Linked DNA regions of Homo sapiens: region 2 is linked to region 1. Evidence: fine-mapped expression QTL. Tissue or cell type: nasal epithelium. Region 1 holds a variant in brackets; the other region holds the start of a gene. All regions are shown on one strand. Distances are from middle to middle.

Region 1 (2,819 bases):
ATTCTACTTCCTTCCACCATCTCTGGCTCTCACCAACATTAACCTAACGCTTTAGGCAAACTGCTTGCTGGCTACCATGATCCTCCTAGATTTCTGTTTTCAGACATTATAGCTTCCCCTTGCTGTTGCAGGAGAAAAGCAACTTCTCCCCAGCTTTTTCGTGAACTTTCCTCCCTAGGACTTACTTTCCCTCTCTGTGAAAGGGTGCTAATGGCCAGGAATCATCTTGCCTGTTATCCTCTCTCTTCCACCTCAGTCGGATGGCCCTCTCACCAGGCTCTGTGAGCCCAGCCTCTGATATGCTTCAAGAGCAGGCGATGCTCTGGGCAGGAAGGACATAGAGCCCAGGGCTCAGGAAGCATTCATTCCTTATTCTTAAATGCTTATCTAGATGCTCTTATTGTTGCTGCCTGTAACTTATGGCTCAGTTATTCCCGGCCTGTGCCCCCAACCTTCTGTTGCTTTCTTTCTCCTAGTCCCTGAATCTCATCTGCACCACTTAGCAGATATGTGACCTTGGGCAAATAGCATAACTTCTTTGGGCCTCAGTCTTCTCATCTGTAATATAAAATAGGTTGATAATATCTGTCTTGCAGAGATTAGTTGTGTAGACTTAATGAGTTAGTATTTTATAGAAAAACACCTGACACATAGTACAAATAGTAAAATGGATGCAGAGTCCATTTTCATTTCCATTTTTCTTGATTTTGGCCATAGAAACAATAATCTTTAAACAGTAAATCATCACTAGATCATCTTTTAAACTCAGTCTACCCAATGAGACCCTCAAGCCTCGTCATGTTTCTGTCTCCATGTGCTAATATGCGGTTTGACTCCATAGGGACCCTGGTCCCAAACCCTCACTGCTTTTGATGCTAGTGGTTTTGGGGCCTGCTCCCTCTTCCTGCTACACCCTGTCTTGCTTTTCTGTGTCTCTGAGGCTTACCTCCATATCATTTGTCTATGTCCTTCTCGCTACTATAGCCAGGTGCTGACTATAATAATACCTGCTTTGCATACCTCAGGGATTATTGTGAGGATCAAAGGGGATGATTAACATGTTGTAAGTGCTTTGAGAAGGAAGATGAGCTGCGTCACATGGGTTATTATGATGATTATAACTCCTGGACTGTCTTCAGATGACTAAAAATATCCACCTAGTGTGGACCTTTTCAGCGTATTCTTATCTCTCTTGGACTTCCCTGCACTGGCTGAGAAGCCTGACAGTTTAAAGCAACTGAAGAACTTGCTGGTAGACAGCAGTGTTGGGGGTAGAGAATGCCTGAGTAATGAGTTATCTTCTTTAGGGTCCCAACGGGAAATCTGGTACCCTGGAAAGCGTTAATTTACCTCACTTGAGTGAATGCTTTAGACCCAGCAAGCATTTCATTTGCCCAGGCAGCCCATTGTGATGATGATATTAAATAATCATTATCATTACGTGGAAATTCTGTCACCTTGGGGATTTAGAAAGTGTTTCTCAAGCCATTTATACATAAGCAACCAAAATGAGCAGAATGTTCATCTAGAAGAAAGTATTTGTGAAGAAAACATTTGTTTGTAATTGTCAGCATTTGGC[G/A]AAAGCAGAGAATGAAAGAATGAAATGAACCACAGCTTTGGATTCCTTCCAGCGTTTTTTTTCCAATCCCAAATTGTCAGACTAGGGAGGGAAGTCTTCCTGTCATGGACCCTGAGCTCTGGGGAGGAGAGTAAGAGACTTCAACTTCCTTACCCTCTCCATCCAGGAAGTCGTTTCCAAGGGAGCTGTCTCTAGGGAAAAGCAAGAGCCCGTTGGCTAATATTTATTTATAGTCGTATACCCTGTAAACTTGTCTTCTTTTAAAAATTAAGAGCAAAAAAGTGGTTTTGGTTCTTGTTTGTTTGGACCACCTCCAGACAGTCATATCTGTTTTCTTTATTTCTGTGCTAGTTGCTCAACATTGTAGGTCTTGATTGAATTGGTTTTATTCCTAGGTCCTCCCTTATTATTAATGTTCTTATTATTGGTTAGTTCTTCTATGTTTGCAGTGTCCTTGACAATCTTTTTTTATTAGCTGTTCTTTATAACAACTCAGTGAGTTGGATCAGCCTTACTGAATATTTATCCAACAAACTGTCCAACATTTTCTTTTGTTGGTTTTGGTTAGGATTTATTGCAATCTTTTTTTTTTCTTTCTGATAATCATCCTTCTGCAAGAAACGTGTTTCATGCTCTTTCTTGCAGGGTTATATGAGCCAGGGGCTTGTGTCATCTGCTTTCAATTCATGTTTAGTTTCTTCCTCCCCTTCCTGGCTTTCTCACCCTCCTCAAAGTTATCGTTGTTTCTCCTGGTCAGGCAAATGGCCCTCAACTAATCTAAGGCAGGTTTGAGCAGAGGGCTTCGTTTTTGATTTCTTGGCATTTGGGTGCATCTCTAAGTGACCACAGGCTGTCAGCAATTCCACATGGTTTGTTACCAAATAGGCCATTGCTGCTAACATTTTGTGGCTGTTGTTGCTGTGGCTGGATGGATATTACCTCTATGGTGAACCACTGGAATGTATGAAGAGAGAGGTCTCAGGGATGGTTGAGAATTGGTACTGTAGCAAGAAAGGATACCAATTCCGATCACCCAATAAATATCCCTGTCTTCTGAAACCCACCGTCATCATCACCTTTATCACCAGCAGCCGTTCCCCCACAATAGTGGCTACGCTCAGCCTTGCCACCACCATCAAAACCATTTTATTATGTTTCTATCTATGCATGTATACTTAGACATCCTTGTAGCCTAGACACTTATAAGTAAATTGGACCCGCAATACCATTTTGAACTTTG
Region 2 (2,819 bases), 76 kb before region 1:
TCAGCCTCCTGAGTAGCTGGGACCACAGGTGTGTGCCACCACATCTGGCTAATTTTTAAATTTTTTGTAGAGATGGGGTTTCACTATGTTGTCCAGGCTGGTCTTGAACTCCTGGCCTTAAGCGATTGTCTTGCCTCAGTTTCCTAAAATGTTGGGATTACAACTATGAGCCACTGTACCCAACCCTATTTTTCCTGGATTTTCTCTTCACTCTTACTTCCTACGTTGCCTTTTCTGTTTTATACAATTTCTGCAATTGCTTGTCTTCCTCTTCCTAAAGTCTCTTCCTATCTCTAATGCTTGCATTTGATTTTAAAGCTGTTCTGGCACACTTGAATAGAATCCTGCATAATAATCTTTCACTAATTTTTCCCCCGACTCCTTATCAAATGTTCACTAAAGTGTATAGTTATTTCTTAGCATATATGCACATACTTGCAAAATAGACCACTATAATCTGCACAATTCTTCTTAAATTCAGCTTTTAAAACATGCCTTTAAATGAAGAAAATATTTGTATAATGAGAATAAATTTTGAAGGTTGTTTCACATTCAAGATTCTTTGAGGTTTTTAACCAGAACAGGTTTGGGGACAACAACTGATGCCTCCTTTAATCACAATACATTTTTAAAAAGTTGAGATTTACTAAAATCTACCTTTCAGGATTTTAAAATGGATGTGCAATCTCCACCACTTTTATTGCCAAGGGAGCACGCATCTGCCCTGGAAAACCTTCCTGTGGAGCGATGTCAGCAGAGATAAATGAATGAGAGTACATGCAGTTCTGGAATAATAGTGCAATTTGGCTAAAGGGTGACATCATCTTTTCACTGTTGTATGTGCCATTCTAAGTAGCAATAAGTCCAGCTGAGCTAGAGAATGAATTATAAGGAAAGTACATTGGCAAGGTGGAATAAAATATAAAAAATTGAAAAAGAAGGTAGCTTTGAATAGATCCAGTCCGCAATATATTTTTTGATATGGAAGGTCTTGATTTAATCACCACATCATAATTTGCCATTATTTTGGATTATGTGGAAAGATGCAAAGCTTCTTTCCTAATGGCTGGTTTGCTATATATACACATGTGTACCACCAGAGTATAAATAGGGACGTTGGAATTGATTTTAGTCTTTAAAGTGTACACTTAAATGCTGGAAAATAAAATGCCTTTATCAGTTAAATCTCCTTACTGTGATTCTACATGCCTCATTGGTAACACTTGAAGAAGGGTTTGCTGGGTTTTATTTGGATCGAGAAAAGAATGCCATCATCCTTCATGCTGATGAACCCAGGGGAGGATCAGTTTGTGATTCTGCATGGGTTCTTGAGGGGTCGGCCAGTATTAACTCATTGCTTTTTTTCTCTTTAAGTAACAGCTTTATTGAGATTGGATTAACATCCCAATATATTGCTTCTGTTCTCTAATTTTTTAGAGTGCAACTCAAACCCCTAATATCTCCTTGTCTTCTAATTCCTCAGGCAACAGATGACTTTCTGCAAAGGCACTGATAATAGCTATGAGGAATAAATATTGCAGATGGATTAAATCAAAGAATCAAATTTCAAAGCCAAATTAGTCGTGAAAAGGAGGGAGAAGCAGAAATGAAGAAAAAAGAACCACAGAAGTAAAATCAGCAGCATTGAAAAGAAAATCATCTGCTGTTTGAATAAAGACCCAAGATCTTTCATTGTTGGATCCCCAAAGCCAGTGCCTTTTTTGAGCAGCAAGTCCCAAGATCAAGAAATCAGAAGGAACTAATACTTTAACTAATTAGTAGTAATGAAAATTTACTAGACATCAATGACAAATTTACAAGGCAAATTTATTTCCAAAGTACATTCATATATATCACAGGTAAAATGAGGTTTTCACAAACACCATTTTAAACATAGGGTTTATTTGCAGGAGCTATTTTTGTGGCTTAGGGAACAAATGGTTCATTGAAACAGAACTTTGCTGGTCTGGTTTCAAAGAATTCTATTATATAAAAGATTCTGTAGAACAGATGGGATCAAAAGTCCCTGAACACAGAACAGGAATATCAGGTAATGAAAATGTTCTTTTGGTATAGTATTATGTTTTATGCTTTGAAAGTATTAGTATGCAAGGAACTCAGGCAAGAGCATAAAAGAGGAAGTAGGAATAATACTTTATGTTTGAATAGGCTTTAGACTTTCCAAAATACTTACATCCTACTGAAGCTTGGTAGCAAGTATTATCCTTGTTTTATTGATGAAAAACATGCTTCCAAGAAAGATGCATTACAAGCGACAGAAAACTCAAAGTGGATTACACAGTAAAAGGTATCTGTCTCTCTGTCTGTCTCTGTCTCTGTGTTTTGGCTCACAGAATTGAAAAGTTCAGGACTAGAGTGAGCTTTCAATGTGCCTTGAAAGAGATGTTCGATTGATACCATCAGGGCCCAGATTCCCTTGACATCTCTTAGTTCTGTTTTCCTAGTATGTGGTTAACTCTGATTAGCCAGGATGGAGACAATAACTCCTGAGCTAAATATGTGGAGTGGGGCAAGGATGGCCCTCTACAGGCGAAGGTGGGGGTGCATTTTAATATGAGTATGGGGGAAAGGATCAGATCTGGGCTAGATCTGATATTCAAGAGGTGTAAACAGATGACCAACAAGATGTTAACAAGATGACACGATTAGAAAGATTTTAATCAAGCCTAGAACCCAGCTCCTCTGAATCCTGGCAAAACATAGGTAGGAACAAAACTGGGAAACAAGACAAGGGATGTCCCAGGAGCTGATGTTTCAGTAAGAGCATAGTTGAGAAGAGACAGAAGAAAACAATAGTT

The links. PIP is the estimated chance that this variant, and not a neighbour inherited with it, causes the effect.
Region 2: LINC02198 starts here. The variant in region 1 is the best candidate, but not a certain one, in a credible set for the expression of LINC02198 in nasal epithelium (TOPMed, PIP 0.54).

Annotation. Positions count from the first base shown.
Region 1 is chr5:68,952,920-68,955,738 of GRCh38, reverse strand. No RefSeq gene overlaps it. Among named protein-coding and RNA genes, the nearest start is that of LINC02198, 76 kb to the left of the region's middle. The variant G/A (reference allele first, on the strand shown) is at 1,580.
Region 2 is chr5:69,028,828-69,031,646 of GRCh38, reverse strand. LINC02198 (long intergenic non-protein coding RNA 2198) reads left to right here and starts at 1,720. Exons shown (of 4, transcript NR_130778.1): 1 at 1,720-1,859.